Regions from separate parts of the Homo sapiens genome. Here region 1 is linked to region 2. Evidence: fine-mapped expression QTL. A gene starts in region 2. The other region holds a variant in brackets. All regions are shown on one strand. Distances are from middle to middle. Region 1 overlaps CD8B (CD8 subunit beta). Region 2 holds the start of CD8A (CD8 subunit alpha).

What was found. PIP is the estimated chance that this variant, and not a neighbour inherited with it, causes the effect.
Region 1: its variant is fine-mapped to the expression of CD8A in cerebellar hemisphere (GTEx, PIP above 0.99). The same link has a PIP of 0.9 or more in cerebellum.

Annotation. Positions count from the first base shown.
Region 1 is chr2:86,854,018-86,859,385 of GRCh38, reverse strand. It overlaps CD8B (CD8 subunit beta), which reads left to right. Exons shown (of 6, transcript NM_004931.5): 2 at 970-1,329. Among named protein-coding and RNA genes, the nearest start is that of CD8B, 5.2 kb to the left of the region's middle. RefSeq lists enhancers at 2,309-2,808, 2,809-3,310. The variant C/A (reference allele first, on the strand shown) is at 2,628.
Region 2 is chr2:86,788,389-86,793,728 of GRCh38, reverse strand. CD8A (CD8 subunit alpha) reads left to right here and starts at 2,816. Exons shown (of 6, transcript NM_001768.7): 1 at 2,816-2,952; 2 at 3,048-3,401; 3 at 3,979-4,089; 4 at 4,296-4,406; 5 at 5,169-5,199. The coding sequence starts at 2,904. RefSeq lists an enhancer at 3,281-4,115.

The DNA of each region.
Region 1 (5,368 bases), 66 kb before region 2:
GGTTCAGGGCCAGGTCTGTGAGTCCTGCTCTAGCTCCTCATGAATAAGCCCCTGCTTGCCGGGTGCTTCTCGTCAGAGTCTAAGATGAACTCCCAGCCCTGCTTCTGTGGTGTCTGTCCTTCCACTGGGGAATAGGGATCCAGTGACCCATCAGTTGCTGGGCTCGGGGGTCATGGGCTGTAATTGTACCTACCAGGGTCTGTCCAGCAACGGACAGACCAGCCACATGCTCTGCTGTGATTCTGGGCTCCTCTCCCAGCCTGTCCTGGGTCTCCTTCGGCAGTTTGGAGCCTACCGAAGGGCTGTACATCCAGTGGCAGCCAGGGGAGGTGAAAGGCAACCAGCTTTGGCTTCAGACTTCAAATCCTTGAGTTTGACTCCTAGGCCACTTACATACTGTAAGTGGGACTTTGAACAAGTAACTTCATGCCTCAGTTTCCTCATCTGTGTAATGAGGATTAAAAATCCTGGATCTATCCTTTTGTGGTGGTACATGCCTATACTCTCAGCTACTTGGGAGGCTGAGGTGGGAAGATAGATTGAGCCCAGGAGGTCAAGGCTGAAGTGTACTATGATAGTGCCTGTGAGTAGCCACTCCACTCCAACCTGGGCAACATAACAAGACCCCATGTCTTTTAAAAAATTCCAAAGCCAGTTTGAGGCTTGATTGAGTTCCTTTATGCAAGGGCCAGGCATATAAGTACACAATAAACAAATGGCAGCTCTCTCCCCTGTACCTTTGTAAAGCTGAACTTAGCAAACACCTCCCTTCCAGATGATCTCCTGGGAGGTGGGGTATGTGAACTCTGAGTCCAGGAGCCAACAGCTGCGCTCAACACACTCCCTGGACCCAGTAACTGGGCAGGTCCTTCCATGGCTTTTCCTTTGACACTTGACTCAGTGTGACTGCAAGGTCCCACAGCTGTGGCTAGGAAAATGTGTGATGTCTCTGTTCTTGGCTTTTCCTAGTTCTCCATGGCAACTCAGTCCTCCAGCAGACCCCTGCATACATAAAGGTGCAAACCAACAAGATGGTGATGCTGTCCTGCGAGGCTAAAATCTCCCTCAGTAACATGCGCATCTACTGGCTGAGACAGCGCCAGGCACCGAGCAGTGACAGTCACCACGAGTTCCTGGCCCTCTGGGATTCCGCAAAAGGGACTATCCACGGTGAAGAGGTGGAACAGGAGAAGATAGCTGTGTTTCGGGATGCAAGCCGGTTCATTCTCAATCTCACAAGCGTGAAGCCGGAAGACAGTGGCATCTACTTCTGCATGATCGTCGGGAGCCCCGAGCTGACCTTCGGGAAGGGAACTCAGCTGAGTGTGGGTAAGAAGCAGGCTCAATGCTATCAGTGAGCACCGATTGTGTGCCAGGCACGTGCCAGGCACTGGGACCACCAGGCTTCAGTGTGCCCCACTCTGCAGCCGTGACTAATGGCACTGCTGCTAATAGTAACAGAAAGAACATGTGGAGACTTACCCAGGCCAAGCCCCTCCAAGTGTTTACATAGTTAGCTTGCTTAATGCTGCCAACCACCCTGGAAGGTAGGTCTATTACCTAACCACTTTAGGTGGGAATAAGATGAAACTAGAAGAGACGGGCCAGAGTCAGAGATGAGCATTGTGCTTCTCTTTTTTATTTATTTATTATTATTATTTTTTTTGAGACAGAGCCTCACTGTGTTGCCCAGGCTGGGGTGCAGTGGTGCGATCTTGGCTCACTGCAGCCTCTGCTTCCCGGGTTCAAGTGATTCTCCTGCCTCAGCTTCCCGAGTAGCTGGGATTACAGGCATGAGCCACCACACCTGGCTAATTTTTTGTATTTTTAGTGGAGACGAGATTTCACCATGTTGGCCAGGTGGGTCTTGAACTCCTGACCTCAAGTGATCCACCCACCTTAGCCTCCCAAAGCGCTAGGATTACAGGCGTGAGCCACCATGCCTGGCCAGGCATTATTCTTCTTATGGGGACAGGGCAGTGCTGTCCTTCAGGCCACATCAGGGACATTCAAAGCTACGGCTGGATTGGGCTGAGCCCCTTGGCCTTATAGTGGTGTTAGAAATCCCCAGAGTGTGCACACAGGGAAAGGAGGCCCTCACTGCCCTGATATACCCAGTGAGGGCATTTCTAGGGGCAGGTGCCCTTATGTTCTCTGTGAGGGCCTACAGCTCGAATTCATACCTGAGTCGAAGTTAGTAAGGAGACTGAGCCAGGCCCAGCTCTGCTTGCAAACTTGCCATGCTTTCTCCCCTGGGCCTCAGTGTTCTCTTCTGTGTCACACGGGGGTGCTGATGGCCTCCATGACCCACTTAATCCCAGAGAAGCTGCAGACCTCTGACTTAAGTCAGCAAGTCCAGCAGACGCACATTTCAAGCCACAGATGAAATTCTAAATTTTTAAAGTCTTGTTTAAAAAAGCAAAAAGAAGCAAGTAAAATTAATTTAAATAATGTTATATTTAACTCAATTTATTAACTATATTTTCATCTCAACATGTAATCAATATAAAAAGTATTGCTGAAATATTTTACATTCATTTTTCATACTAAGTGTTCGATGAGCATTTTACATAAAACATATGGCTCATCTCGATTCAGACTGGCCACATTTCATGTGCTCAGCAGCA[C/A]CTGTGGCATATTGGACAGAAGGCATTTAGTTATGGGTGGTAACTCTCACAGCCTGGCTCTGGCTCTAGCCCCACCTCCAGCTTGGCCCAAGGCTGGAGCCAACCCCCTCCAGGGCTCCCACTGCCCTGCTTCCTGCTCACTTGAGGGCACTAAAAGCCACAAGGGGACCCAGAAATTAGACCACTCAGCGTGAGGAAGTGCAGGGGCAGCTGGGGACAGCAGCACAATTAGGAAGACACAAACCAAAGTGATGCCCCGCCACCTCTTGCTAGCCTGGGAGGGTGTATTGCAGGCAAGAAGCTGAGGCATCCCTTCACGTGGGGGTCCACTGATTTTCGTATTGAAAAATGGACTTTGGGAGTTTGGGGTTTGGGGTTTGGGGTTTGGCTTTAGCTTATTGTTTTTGTCTCTGTAAGCCCCACACCTTTCCACTCATGAGATTTCAGAGTCTGAGAAGGTGGAGGGTACAATAAACACAGCTAGTTTCCAGAGCTTCCCACCGCCTCCATCCCAACCGCACTCACTCCTGACTTCCGTGTTTCCAAACCCCAAACCCCTCCCAGCACTATAGGAATGTCAATGCCTCTCTCCAGCTCTGGCTTGCAGCCAAACCTGCTTCTCCCCAGGGCTTGCAACCAGACCTTCTTCGGAGCCGAACCCCACCTTCTCACCCAAGAAAGGCCTTTTAGAGGACAAAGCTGGGATGGTTGAGAAAGTGTTTGGGGAAAGACAGGGCCTTTTTCAGGCCCTTAAGTATATCATGGGCTCGAAGTTTTATTCCTTTTAAGAACAGAGAGGGAGAGATTAAACTGGGTGCTCAGGAGGAATCCAGGGGGACCTGGCTCTAGGCAAGAAGAATTTAAAACAGAACAGTCCCCCAACCTGAGTCTCCCACTAGACCCAGGCGGCGGTGCCCAGCCAAGGCACTGAGGGCCCAAAGAGTTGGCTCCCCTCTGGGCTCACCACTGACCATCTGAAAGACGTCCCTGCTTCCTCGGGTAGAAAATAAGTCAAACAGAACTACTTCTAGGGCCATGAGGATTGAAGGAGGCAACACTCCCAGGAGAGGGCCAGGCTCGTTGCACGCTCTCCGACCCTGCTGATGACAGTTTCCTCTTACAATAGTTGCCCTCAGCACTATGATGACCCAGGGCCTTGGGTGGACCTAAAGTGTTCAACTTTTGTCAGAAAATCTTTGCACGTGAGGTAGTGTGGCAGAACGAGAAGCACAGGTTCTAGAATCAAGGTCTTTTGGTGCAGATACTGGCTCTGCAGCCAGTGGCTGTCTAACTTTGGACACATTATTTCAGCTCTCTGAGCCTAGGCTTCCTCCTGGATAAAATGGGGACAACAGTGCCTGCCCCAAAAGTTGTTGTGTCCAGTAAACTTATGCTGAAAGGCTCAGCACTGCTCCCCACACATGGTTGGAGCTTAGTGCACTTTCATCCTAGTTGCTTCTTCCCATCAATGTCTTGAAGCAGACAAACAGATCGTGTTCTCTCCGCTTTCCAGAGGAGGCTCAGAGAGGTGAGGGGTTAAAATGTCTACTTTTATATAGAAGATGCCAGCCCAAAAATGACTGATCTGTGGGCTTCCCCTGCCTGTTCCCCCTTACAACCCCCCAAAACCTTTTTTTTTTTTGAGACGGAGTCACTGTCACCCAGGCTGGAGTTTAGTGGCAGGATCTTGGCTGACTGCAACCTCTGCCTCACAGGTTCAAACGACTCTGCTGCCTCAGCCTCCTGAGTAGCTGGGATTACAGGCACGTGCCACCACGCCCAACTAATTTTTGTATTTTTAGTAGGCACAGGGTTTTGCCATGTTGGCCAGGCTGGTCTTGGACTCCTGACCTCAGGTGATCTGCCTGCCTCGGCCTCCCAAAGTGCTGGGATTACAGGCGTGAGTCACCGCGCCCAGCCTTAATATTTCTTTTCTTTTCTTTTTTTTTTTTCTGTCCCCCTGACTCTAGAGTTTAGGTTCATGGTGTCTCCTTACTCCCTCTCCTACCATTTTGGAGAAAATCAGTGCAGAGAGATCTGTTTCCTTAACCCACAAAGGCAAGGGTTGGACTCTGTGGCCAGCAGTGCCCCCTTCATCCCCAGTAGGCATCAGAGCCACAGCTGTCTTCCTTTGCTCTGGGTGCTGGCCCACTGCCCCTCCCAACACTTCAGCAGGGGTCACTGGGTAAAAATGAAGGAGAGGGGTGACCCATCCAGGAGTCAGGACAGGGGTTTGGGGTCCCAACACAGCACTCACCACTTGGGGCTGCAGGGGCCAGCTCCCCTCATCTCTGGCGTTCACCTTTGAAATTAAAGTTTGAGACTGAACTTCCCTTAGCTCTGGTATTATATATATATTTTAGGGCCATCTGAGAAGGAAAACCAATCCCCAAATATGACACCTGTGTGGTACTCTACATGCAGAAAAGGGCACCCCCTCCTTCCATGAGCTTCCTCCATGTGCTTAGGGAATGCCGAGTTGGGCGGAGGGGCTCGTTGTGCCAAAGGCTGGGCGATCCAGCCCTGGGGCTCAAGGTCTTCAGCCAGGTGGAGCCACATCTACTGAAACTTTTTTTGGACACACTGTCCCTTTCATTCTCAGATAATCCCAAGAAGGAGGTGGCAGTTATCATTATTTCAGCAGATAAGGAAATCAAGGCACAGAAAAATGCTATGACTTGTCCCAAGTCACACAGCGGTTAATCAGGGGTGTAGGTCGGCCGGGTGCGGTGGCTCGTACC
Region 2 (5,340 bases):
TCCAAATAGGTGGAGGTTGACTCTGGCCCCCTCAGTGCTTCCACCACTGGGCAAGTGCAGTTTCGTGTCTAGCCATCTTCCTTACCACCCTGTTGATTGTAGCCTTTGGCCAGCAGGGCCATTTGACACTCCTGATACAGTGCTGGTGGTGCTGAGCAAAATGGCAAACTACCATCTACAGCAAGAATTGATGTGTTGGTGGCCTGTCTGGACTTGATTGCTTCCTTGTCTCCCTCATTCATGTGAGTTGAGGGACAGCACTGTGTCTACACAGCGAGGGACCCTCATACCATGCACACACACACACACATGCATACATCGATAGGCCAGTTATAACCATCATTGTAAAGGTGTTTTCTTCCCCAACTCCCTCATCTCCCATTTGAAAAAGCTGCAGGTACTGGTGCAAGCCCTCAGTGATACAGATACATTATATCTACCACAGCCTTGCTAGTGTTGCAATAATGAGAAATCGCCTAAATGTCCACTAACAGCAGAATTAAATTATGGAACACCCATATATAATGCACCCATTTATAAGAATGGGGTGGATCTTCATCTGCTGAACGCTCTCCTTCTACTGTGAAACAAGATAGGTTGCAAAAAAATATTTATCTCATACAATCCCATGTGTCTAAGATGATGTATAAACATCTGTTTATGTACAGATAATATCTAAGGGACACATTCAACTGTAACAGTGGTTTTCTGTGGGGAGCAGGTGACAGTGAGGAGAGTTGAGACAGGGAACTTTGTGTTTGTTTTCGTACAAGAATATATTGCACTGTTGTCACTTAAAAGACATTTTTAAAAATTTCTGAATATAAAATGTTACATGTTCCATGCTAGAATAAGCATCTTGGATGCTTTGAGGGAGCTGGAAGGAGGTACTGAAATCAAAATAATTAAAAAAAAAAAAAAAAGCCCATCCAGGCCCTGATATGGTGGCTCACACCTGTAATCTCAACACTTTGGAGGCCAAGGCGGGGCAAAGCGCCTGACCTCGGGCATTGGAGACCAGCCTGGGCAACATGGTGAAACCCCATCTCTACCAAAAATACAAAAAATTAGCTGGGCATGGTGGTGTGCTCCTGTGGTCCCAGCTACTTGGGAGGCTGAGGTGGAAGGATCACTTGAGCCTGGGAGGTAGAGGCTGCAGTGAGCCGAGGTGGTGCCACACTGCACTCCAGCCTGGGCAACACAGCCAGACCCCATCTCAAAAAAAAAAATAGCAACAACGACAAAGAACCCATCCAACACTTAAGTTTGTACTTCACAAGGACAAGGAGAATGCAGTTCAACAAGCACAGCTCAGCCCATGCTGTGTTTCTGGGGATGGAGGACACATCATGAAGTCTCGGCATGGTCCTCGCCCAGCAGAACTAATGGGTGGGGCAGACACATGGAACACAGAATGCCAGGTGTCTTGTCTCTAGGATCAAGCAGTAGCAATGTGAGGTGCAGCCACTATGGGATTCAAAGTGGAAAGACTCAGAAACCCTGAAGAAATGGGAAGAGGGCATGCCACTGGAGCTGGAAGGTTTCAGGACAGCAACAGTCAAAAAGGAAAGATGAGCCTGTAGTCCCAGCTACTCAGGGGGCTGGGGTGGGAGGATCACTGGAGCTCAGGAGTCCCAAGGCCAGCCTGAGCAAAACAGCGAGACTCCAGTCTTTTTTATTTTATTTTATTTTTTAAAGAAACAAAAAGGAAGGGGACACACATGTGTTAGGGACAGAAAAGAGAAAACCGCCTCTACCCAAGCATTCACCCACATCACCCACACCTCCCTGCAGAGCACCCAGAGCTGGGGGTGAAAGAAATGAGGTCCAAATGAGACAGCACAGGAGCTGCCTCCAGGGCTTAAACAGACCAGCATTCCAGGCCGAGGGACCGCAAGTGCAAGGGCGTGAAAGCACAGAGCGCAGGGGTTGAATGACTTCAAGCCTGTGAAGCTGCAGCTGCAGGTGTATGGGAAAGGCAGGGCAGGGGGCTGTGCGGAGGCTGGGAGGAGCCAGCACCCAAGGGCTGGTCAACCAAGCTGGGGGTTGAATTTCCATCCAGCAATGCAGGCCATGGGAGGCTGCAGCAGTGACGCTGTCAGATCCCCTTTGTGAGAATAATAATTTTTATAACAACGTGGCTGGAGGACTGATCAGGAGAGAGACTGGTGTGAATTGAAGGCTGTTGCAATGGCTCCAAGAAGAGATGAGGCTGTGTGGTGAGTTTAGCCGCTGGATGAAAGGCCGGAAGAATGAGGTCAGCAGCGCACTGACACCGACACCCAAAGCTTCGGCTGCTGCCGCTCTCATGGAAATCTCCTGGGGGAAGGGAGAGGGTCCTTCCTCGGTGAAAACTGGGGCTGCTCTAGCGAGTTCCTCAGAAGCGGGCAGGTCGCTAGTTCCTCTTCCTTTTCAGCCCTCAGTGCCCATTTTGCCAATAAAAAGTCCCAAGGTGACAGTACAAGAGACGCCTTTAGTGAAGGCAAAGGAAGGGACACTCCCCTCCTTTGCTGCCTACTCTCGCCCTCACTTCTTGAAATCTTTGGTCTCCCTTCACCCACTCTGTCACTCTCACAAGACAACCATTTCCAAGGACTATTTCCAAGCCCTTTTCCTCATCCCCAAACCCGCAGTTTTCAGCTGCCCCCAGTTGCCTGGCCAGGCTGCCTCGACGGCCCTATTCACGGGCCCCAGCCTCCTCGCCGGGCTGGAAGGCGACAACCGCGAAAAGGAGGGTGACTCTCCTCGGCGGGGGCTTCGGGTGACATCACATCCTCCAAATGCGAAATCAGGCTCCGGGCCGGCCGAAGGGCGCAACTTTCCCCCCTCGGCGCCCCACCGGCTCCCGCGCGCCTCCCCTCGCGCCCGAGCTTCGAGCCAAGCAGCGTCCTGGGGAGCGCGTCATGGCCTTACCAGTGACCGCCTTGCTCCTGCCGCTGGCCTTGCTGCTCCGTGAGTTTGAGACGCCCGGGAAGGCAGGGGATGGGGCGGGCGGGGGGCGGGGGGCGCGGGACTGCGGGCTCAGCCTCGCTGCTTGCCGCCTGCAGACGCCGCCAGGCCGAGCCAGTTCCGGGTGTCGCCGCTGGATCGGACCTGGAACCTGGGCGAGACAGTGGAGCTGAAGTGCCAGGTGCTGCTGTCCAACCCGACGTCGGGCTGCTCGTGGCTCTTCCAGCCGCGCGGCGCCGCCGCCAGTCCCACCTTCCTCCTATACCTCTCCCAAAACAAGCCCAAGGCGGCCGAGGGGCTGGACACCCAGCGGTTCTCGGGCAAGAGGTTGGGGGACACCTTCGTCCTCACCCTGAGCGACTTCCGCCGAGAGAACGAGGGCTACTATTTCTGCTCGGCCCTGAGCAACTCCATCATGTACTTCAGCCACTTCGTGCCGGTCTTCCTGCCAGGTCCGCGCGCCGGGTTGCGGCACCTCTCCGCGTGGGGCTTGGGGTTCACCTCAACCTGTTTTCCACACCTGGGCCCTGCTTTCAAGCCTCTTAGCGCACCTGGAAGCGACTTAGATACTGTTCCCATTTCACAGACACAGCAAACTGAGGCTAACGCGAGGCTGAGTAGGGACTGGGGATGGCTTTTTACGTCCGGCCGATCTGGACTCGAGTTCGGATTCTTGTGTGATTCTGGGCAAATGACTTAAATTATCTGCGCCTCCGTTTGCTCGTGGGTAAAATGCGGACAGCAATCAACCCGCGCTCCAGGGTTGCTGGTTCAGCCCGGGAGAGAGGCCAGGTGCAGGGGAGCTGGCTCCTGCGCTCCGGCTCTGGGCGCCGGGTGCGCTGGGCTGAGCCGAGGCCCGAGCACAGGGGTCCGCGCGCATCCCGGGGTCCCCATCCTGTCTCCTCTGCTATCCCTTCTCCCAGGAAAACCGGGGGGAGGCGTCCCCGTGGGGAAAGGTGCGCGAGGCCGGGGCTGGGGCGCCTCCATAACCCCAGCCTGGCCCCCAACCACGCTCTGTTGCTCTTGCAGCGAAGCCCACCACGACGCCAGCGCCGCGACCACCAACACCGGCGCCCACCATCGCGTCGCAGCCCCTGTCCCTGCGCCCAGAGGCGTGCCGGCCAGCGGCGGGGGGCGCAGGTGAGGCGTGCGGGGGCCCGGGGCGGGGGCGGCACGCACCGCGGGGAGAGCCCATGCCAGGGACAGCCCTGATACTGTAGGTAGAGTCAAGGGCTGTCCAAGTGGTGGGAAACCGAGATCTGAGGCGGAGAGACGTTCCCGGGACGGTGGGGCGGTTGGGAGGTCCCGGGCCCTCTCCTAAATGTCGGCGTCTTTGGTGTCGTCAGTGCACACGAGGGGGCTGGACTTCGCCTGTGATATCTACATCTGGGCGCCCTTGGCCGGGACTTGTGGGGTCCTTCTCCTGTCACTGGTTATCACCCTTTACTGCAACCACAGTAAGTCCCGAGGAATCGCGGCGGGAAGGAGTCGGCCCCGCTCCTGCCCTTGGCTCTGCTAGCTCCAGGCGGACCTTGCGAGGGGGGAGCTTGGGGTTGAGTTTTCTGGGACTCCCGAGCTGCCCCGCAGGTACAGGCACTTCTTTCTGGGAGATAGAATGCGAGAAAGCCCTTCCCGCTCCTTGCGCTCTCGGAGAGGTTTTGGGAGACAAAGCCGCGTTCCCAGAGCCGCTGCAGCGGGTGTGTTCCGTCGACGAAGCCCGCAGCGCGCGCGCACATGTCTGGACACATGACAAACGCCCGCCGGGAGGGGGCCGCTGTGGCCGAGTCAAGTGCCCAGGAGGGTTAGTCAAAACCACCATCAGTTTGAGGTTCGTCCTTGGCCCTCTTCGGCGAACCGCCCACCCTGCTTTGGGTCCCATGCAAGAGAGGTGCCGGATCAGGTCTGCAGGCTCCCCGCTTTCGCCCGCGTCTGTAGTTGCAATTTTTTTTAATTGATGCTTGAGACGAAGGATGGATAAGAAGCCCTTACCCGGCTCTCAAGAGTTATAATCCTCAAAGAAATAGGGGAAAGGAAGGAGAATTCGTAGAGGCAATTCCCTATTTGCCTCATCCAATTTCAGCCCATGATCGTTCTGAAATGATTTTTTGTAAAACCAAAAAACAGCAGCAACAACAACAGCAACAACAAAAAATACACTGTCTTTGGGGACTATTGATGGATAGGGGCACTCACTTTTTCCCTTCTTTTTCCTTATCCAGGGAACCGAAGACGTGTTTGCAAATGTCCCCGGTGAGTCTCTTTTGAACTCAGCCTGCTCACCTTGGCCAGCCCTGGGGTGGGGTCCTGGTTTCCCCAGCAGCAAATAGTGGGAACTTTTCCCAGAGAGAGGTCATGGCCGTGAAATCCTGGGGCAGGGAGTCAGCCAGTTCC